2 linked regions of the Homo sapiens genome follow. The protein of the gene in region 2 interacts with the protein of the main gene of each other region in a biochemical or structural test. Each region holds a gene or a part of one and is shown on either strand. Other genes may lie near its edges. The genes, in order: POLH and POLD2.

Region 1 (3,731 bases), on a different chromosome or scaffold from region 2:
CACCCGGCCCACATTGGGAATTTTTTTTTTTTTAAACAGTGTCACTCTGTTGCCCAGACTGGAGTGCAGTGGCACAATCTCAGCTCACTACAACCTCTGCCTCCCAGATTCAAGTGATTCTCCTGCCTCAGCCTCCTAAGTAGCTGGGATTACACGCATGCGTCACCACACACACCTAATTTTTGTTATTTTTTGTAGAGATGGGTTTTCCCCATGTTGGCCAGCCTGGTCTCAAACTCCCAGCCTCAAGTGATCCGCCCACCTTGGCCTCCCAAAGTGTGGGATTACAGGCATGAGCCACCACACCTGACCCACATTGGGAAATCTTGTTAATATCAGATTACAATTAAGTGGGAATAGTGGTGAGGCTGAGACTATTTCTAATAAGTTCCCTGGTGATACTGAGGCTGCTGTTCCTCAAATCATACTTGGGAGTAGCAATGTTCTAGAGATGATCTAGTGGGTTTTTTTGAGACAGAGTTACTCTATCGCCCAGGCTGGAATGCAGTGGAAATCTCGGCTCACTGCAACCTCTGCCTCCCAGGTTCAAGTGATTCTCCTGCCTCAGCCTCCCAACTAGCTGGGATTACACGCACCCACCACCATGCCCGGCTAATTTTTGTATTTTTAGTAGATACAGGGTTTCGCCATGTTGGCCATGCTTGTCTTGAACTCCTGACTTCACGTGGTCCACCTGCCTTGGCCTCCCAAAGTGCTGGGATAACAGGCATAAACCACCACGCCTGGCAAGATTTGATTATGACTTATCAGATCTAAACAGAGTTCCTGAACTAGTCAAGTAGCAATCTAATTCTACATTAGAACAAAACGCAAGAGATAGGCCAATGGTTAGAACTGAGGGTATAATAGGGTTTACCTGTATGAAATTCACTGTTTATTAAGTCACTTTTATGTACAGAAAGACCTGCCCTAGTTACCATATCACTTTTAGGGTTTCAAGGCTTCATCTCACATTCTTCAGCTGAAAACAGGTAAATCTGGTGAAGGTATTATCTGAACTGCCCGTCACAGAGCTAGAGAGAAGTTTTTCTTTTGTTTTTTTTTTTTTTGAGACAGTCTCTCACTCTCACCCTGGCTGGAGTGCATTGGTGTGATCTCAACTCACTGCAACCTCCACCTTCCAGGTTCAAGCAATTCTCCTGCCTCAGTCTCCCGAGTACCTGGGATTACAGGCGCCTGCCACCAAGCCCAGCTAATTTTTTTTAGTAGAGACGGGGTTTTGCCACCTTGCCCAGGCTGGTCTCGAACTCCTGAGCTCCTGCAATCCACTCACCTCAGCCTCCCTAAATGCTGGGATTATAGGCATGAGGAACCGCACCCAGCCTAAAGAGAAGTTTTTCTTTTTTTTTTTTTTTTGAGACGGAGTCTCGCTCTGTCACCCAGGCTGGAGTGCAGTGGCGCGCTCTCGGCTCACTGCAAGCTCCGCCTCCCGGGTTCACACCATTCTCCTGCCTCAGCCTCCCGAGTAGCTGGGACTACAGGCGCCTGCCACCGCACCCGGCTAATTTTTTTTTGTATTTTTTAGTAGAGACGGGGTTTCACCGTGGTCTCGATCTCCTGACCTTGTGATCCGCCCGCCTCGGCCTCCCAAAGTGCTGGGATTGCAGGCGTGAGCCACTGCGCCCGGCCAAGAGAAGTTTTTCTTAAAATCCTTTTTTTGGGGGGGCCAGGATCGGTGGCTAACATCTGTAATCCCAGCAACTTTGGGAGGTCGAGGCAGGCGGATCATGAGGTCAAGCAATCGAGACCATCCTGGCCAACATGGTGAAACCTCATCTCTATTAAAAATACAAAAATTAGCTGAGTGTGGTAGCACGTGCCTGTAGTCCCAGCTACTTGGGAGGCTGAGGCAGGAGAATTGCTTGAACCCAGGAGACGGAGGTTGCGGTGAGCTGAGAACGCACCACTGCATTCTAGCCTGACGACAGAGGGAGACTCCGTCTCAAAAATAAAAAATAAAAATAAAAATAATCCCTTTTTTTTTTTTAACTATGCAAGTCTCATTACATTTAAAACCCTTTTTTAAACTTGGTCCCTTTTCTGTGCCAACTTTATGTTTGTTTTTGTTCTTGTTTTTGTTTGAGATGGAGTCTCGCTCTGTTGCCCAGGCTGGAGTGCGGTGGCGCGATCTCAGCTCACTCCAACCTCTGCCTCCTGGGTTCAAGTGATTCTCCTGCCTTAGCCTCCTGAGTAGCTGGGATTACAGGCGTGCACCACCACGCCTGGATAATTTTTTTTGTAATTTTAGTAGAGATGGGGTTTCACCATATTGGTCTGAAACTCCTGACCTCGTGATCTGCCCGCCTTGGCCTCCCAAAGTGCTGGCATTACAGGTATGAGCCACTGTGCCTGGCCCCTATTTTTTATTTTCTGAGATGAAGTCTCGCTCTGTTGCCCAGGCTGGAGCGCACTAGCATGATCTCAGCTCAATGCAACCTCCGCCTCCAAGGTTAAAGCAATTCTTCTGCCTCAGCCTCTAAGTAGCTGGGATCACAGGTGCCTGGAACGTGCCTGGCTAATTTTTCTATTTTTAGTAGAGATGGTTTTGCCATGTTGGCCAGGCTGGTCTCAAACTCCTGACCTCAGGTGATCTGTCTGCCTCGGCCTCCCAAAGTGTTAGGATTACAGGCGTGAGCCATTGTACCCGGCCGAGTTACATAATTTGAATACATTGTTATTAATCTGCAATAATCTGTAAGGTATTATCTCCATTTTACAGATGAGAATGTGAAGAAAATGACTTGTTCAAGGCCCTCATTGCAATAACCAGAGCTAAGTTTGCAACCACGTCTCTTAGACTCCAAGGCCCACACACTTTTTACTTTATGACACTGCCTCCCTAAATGCTAAAGATTAAAAACTCTGGTAGGATGAATTTTTACATCTCTGTCAGCAGTGGGATTAGAATCCATGCCTGTGAAGAGATGGGACCGTAACTCAGCACCTAAATGGATTATTTTTTGTATTAAAAATTTCATAATTCCCTTTCTCAGGGAAATCTGTAAAGATAAAATATTAAAGATAAAGATCTGTAAAGATAAAAAATATTAAATCCTACAGGCAAGCCTGAGGGCAGCACTAATGTGTTAATGGCTTAAAAAATGATTCCAATGTTTGCATGCCCTCAGGCCTGGGGCGTTTATTAGTGCAGGCCAAAGGGCTCTTGGGATTTCTTTTGCCTTGATGAGATACGGCAGAAACAACCTGGGGGTTTGAAGAGTGGGGCTGCAAAAAGGATTTCTGCAACTCCAATGCAAAATGATAGTCCATGTGTTCTGGCATATCCCATACCGGTACCAGGGAGCCACACTTCTCACAGGGCACTTGGTCCTCAGCAGCTAGAAGACTTGGATTTGGGGTTGCTTTCTGAGTCACCTCCAGCACAGATTTGGAAGCTGAAGAGGCGTGCATGCTTTGGCTGTTGTGGGCCAAATCCATCTCTGCAGGAGTTGCTTTAGAGGATTCTTCTAGCTTCGACACCCCTTCACAAACAGGGACACACCCTGGATACTCTGTTGGTAAAGAGTTTGGTAATGCTTTACAGTTGGACCATGGGTTTTGTTGGGGGGAAGAAACTGAAGAATTATTAAGCTGTTTCTGCTTTAGAAGCAGACTTTTCTGCTTAAAGAAGGGCTCAGTTCCTGTACTTTGACTGGTTTGAAAAGGTAATGAGGGCTTGGATGGTGAATTGCTCATGGGAGCCTGAGTGG
Region 2 (3,497 bases):
CATAGAGCCCTGGGGCCTCATACCGCCAACCACCGCTGGCTGGGAGGAGTCGGAGACTGAGACCTACACAGAGGTGGTGACAGAGTTTGGGACCGAGGTGGAGCCCGAGTTTGGGACCAAGGTGGAGCCCGAGTTTGAGACCCAGTTGGAGCCTGAGTTTGAGACCCAGCTGGAACCCGAGTTTGAGGAAGAGGAGGAGGAGGAGAAAGAGGAGGAGATAGCCACTGGCCAGGCATTCCCCTTCACAACAGTAGAGACCTACACAGTGAACTTTGGGGACTTCTGAGATCAGCGTCCTACCAAGACCCCAGCCCAACTCAAGCTACAGCAGCAGCACTTCCCAAGCCTGCTGACCACAGTCACATCACCCATCAGCACATGGAAGGCCCCTGGTATGGACACTGAAAGGAAGGGCTGGTCCTGCCCCTTTGAGGGGGTGCAAACATGACTGGGACCTAAGAGCCAGAGGCTGTGTAGAGGCTCCTGCTCCACCTGCCAGTCTCGTAAGAGATGGGGTTGCTGCAGTGTTGGAGTAGGGGCAGAGGGAGGGAGCCAAGGTCACTCCAATAAAACAAGCTCATGGCACGGACTGCTCACATTCTGAGGTGTCAGGGATGGGGAGGAGGGAGACCGGCTGGTGGGTGCATGGGCTATGGTCACTGTGGGCACCCCTGCAGGAGTCCCATAGCCAGAGTGCCCAGGGCTCAAGGCTCGCATCAGCAAGTGCTCAGGCTTTATTTACAATGCCGACACTGCAGGGAATGAACAGCCTCCATCTGGGCCTCTCTGGTCAAAACCACTTTTTTGAGTCAGGGGCCCAGCCCCAGGCCTCCCAGGTCATCGTCCTCTGCCCCGAAGCCCGAGAAGCTGATGGGCTGGCAGGCCAGGCTGCGCAGGTTCACAAGGCAGGCGGTCTGCGTGGCACTGAAGTCAGGGACAGTCACCAACAGCACTGTCTGGTCCTCAGGACCTGCAAAGAAGTCACATAGGACCCACTGTAGGTTCCAAGTAAGTCCTGCCTCAAAGAGAAGCTGCCAGAAATAAACAGGAGTCCCCATTGGCACACAGTGGGGCAGTGACAATAGGAGACCAGAGATTAGCCTTGAGAGGCACACAGGCTGGGAGCCGTTCCAGTCCCTGCCCAGCTGGCGAGGCAGCTTGGCTCCCACAGTGAAATGGCAGCTGTGCAGAAGACCTCAGCTGTCCATCCCACAAGGGCCAGGGGGACTCCACAATGCAGGTTTTCTTCTCTGTGAACCTTGTCCCCAGGTGAGAGCAAATCAGCAAATCAGCCTGGGCCCCCAGAAGACAAAAATTACCTCGGATGATTTTGGAGCCAAAGCTGGGGGTGTTGCCACAAAAGTAGACATGCGGGCACTCTGGGAAGATGAACGGGTCAGTTTTGTAGAAGGGGTAACAACCTGGAGGAGAAGGGGCAGCTCTGAGGAGGGTTCCGCCTCAGCACTAGCACTCTGCACAGGATGTGGGGCTGCAGCCCCTCCTCCCATTGCAGGCCAGTAGGAGACCCCCAGTGTGACAATAGGGGCACCTCCAGACATTGTCACAAGACCTTGGCCCTGCTGTTGCTGCCCGTTGGGGTGGGCAGCCATTGGCCTTAGAATTAAGATTCCAGAGTAGCTTCCAGAGCAGGTGCCAAGCCTCTGAACTTCTCCTCAGACAGTTCTCAGCAATGCTGGCAAGTGCAAACCCACAGGGGGACCCTGTGCACTTCAGGGTCCTGCCAGGCCTCCTGGCCCTCTGCTCCCACCCTGTATGGCTGAGCCTGTTACCTAGAGTGTCAGGGGCTGTGGGGCTGATGTGACGGACCCGCAGGGTCCACTCCAGGATCTCCAAGTGATCCTCCATGCTGCTGTATCGGAAAATGTCACTCACGTTCTGTCCTGATGTCCCCAAAAATCTGCAAGGCAAAGCTCAGCTGACTCTTGGCTTTGGGTGCCACCCATAGTGGTCAGCCCAGAGCTCATCTGGCGCTCTTGTGGGGATGCCCCAGAGAGAAGGAACAGATGCTAGGTGGGCCTCTGCAGCCCTGCCACCTTCCTGGGCCCTCCCTCCCCTCCCTTCTTTGTGCCTCCTGAGGCAAAAGGCTGGGTCAGACTGAAGTGTGGCTGTGCCAGCTACCTGACTCCATCAATGGTGGCCTGGTAGGGGTTGGTGACCAGCTGGAGCGTGGAGTAGGCAGTGGCCAGCGGGAACATGCAGGGGTGGAGGGGCTGCTGGGGGAGCGTGTAATTGGTGGGATCAAACTCGCCTGGCATCACGTCCACGGGCACTGAGGCCTGGAAGGCACAGGGCAGGGAGAGCTCACAGGGCCCCGAAGGAGCCCCCTACACCAACTCCGGCCACTCCCCCTGCCCTCCTGCCTGCCTTCTGTTGCCCAGTGGCAGCTTTGAAGACTGCAATCCCCATCACCCCTCCAGCCCCCAGCTCGCTCACGCTCAGCTGCAGGAGGATCTCATCCAGCATCTTAACAGCCTCCACGCTGGCTGCCTGGGTTTTCTTGGTGAGGTATTTGGCCTGGAATAGAAGCCCAGAAGGCCATCAGGCCCAGGCGAGTCCCAGGCTCAGAGGAGAGTAGAGCCCCACCAGCTGGAAGATGCAGTTGTTGTCCCATAGACCCTCACTCCCTTCAAGCCTCCCACCATCCTCAGCGAGGGCCTGGGCATGAGGAGCCCCATTGCAGGAGGCCCCAGAGTCACTGCAGGGCGCTTCCCACCGACCTGCGAGACCTCACAGGGTACCCTACTCGCCCTGGGGAAGGAGGGTCTTACAGGCTTGCAGGCTCCTGGGCTGGGGCTGAATGCAGCCAGGTGGGCTCCATACCTTATTGATAGAATCCCTGCTCTGGGTGCTGTGGCTGAGGAGGTTGCCAGCGAGGATAACCCGGGAGACGTGGGCGGCGCTGCACTGCTCCCCTTCGTCCCCAAGCTGCCCCGTCACCACATCCACCAGCAGCTGGGTGCCCAGCAGGCTCTCGCCTCCACCGCCACCCAGGCCCAGGCCGGACACCAGTAGCACAAACCTGCGGGAGAAGGTGGGGTCCTCCAGGGTGCCGAGAAGGGAGGCAGCCCCTCCTAGGTGCAACTCAAAGATTCCACTGACCATGAGCTGGTTCCAGCTCCCGAGAACTGCTGCTCACCTATCTGTGTCAAGTGGGGGTGCGGGCTTCTGGGGAGCAAGGTCAGCAAAGCAATAGTCCTCCACCAGAAACTTCCCGTCGTCTCTCACGGAGCCAAACACAGCCAGGACAGTCCCTGGGGAGCAGTGGCATCAGGCCTGAGCAGGGAGCCCCAGGTGCTACCACTCCTTCCAGTCACCCCAACGGGCAAAACAAGCCAGTTCTCCACAACCACATTGGTGAATTCTCACCTAGGACTCCAGGATGCATGCCTGCTTCCTGGAGTCACTGCCCTTGGATGGAGGTGGGGAGACCCATCTCCCAGCCAGGTCTCACCCAATCTGATGGCCTCCGACCGCCT

Evidence for each region.
Region 1: the proteins of POLD2 (region 2) and POLH form a complex in vitro, tested with the Homo sapiens proteins (one study listed by BioGRID).

What each region holds. Positions count from the first base shown.
Region 1 is NC_000006.12:43,613,926-43,617,656, reverse strand, and holds part of POLH (DNA polymerase eta), read right to left. Parts: coding exon 3,100-3,731; 3' UTR 1-3,099. UniProt on the Homo sapiens protein: DNA polymerase specifically involved in the DNA repair by translesion synthesis (TLS). Due to low processivity on both damaged and normal DNA, cooperates with the heterotetrameric (REV3L, REV7, POLD2 and POLD3) POLZ complex for complete bypass of DNA lesions.
Region 2 is NC_000007.14:44,113,976-44,117,472, forward strand, and holds the end of POLD2 (DNA polymerase delta subunit 2), read right to left. Parts: intron 3,273-3,497; coding exon 3,158-3,272; intron 3,041-3,157; coding exon 2,842-3,040; intron 2,536-2,841; coding exon 2,455-2,535; intron 2,298-2,454; coding exon 2,140-2,297; intron 1,919-2,139; coding exon 1,791-1,918; intron 1,422-1,790; coding exon 1,320-1,421; intron 971-1,319; coding exon 810-970; 3' UTR 705-809; downstream 1-704. Other genes in the region: AEBP1 (adipocyte enhancer-binding protein 1 precursor), read left to right, coding at 1-286. UniProt on the Homo sapiens protein: Accessory component of both the DNA polymerase delta complex and the DNA polymerase zeta complex.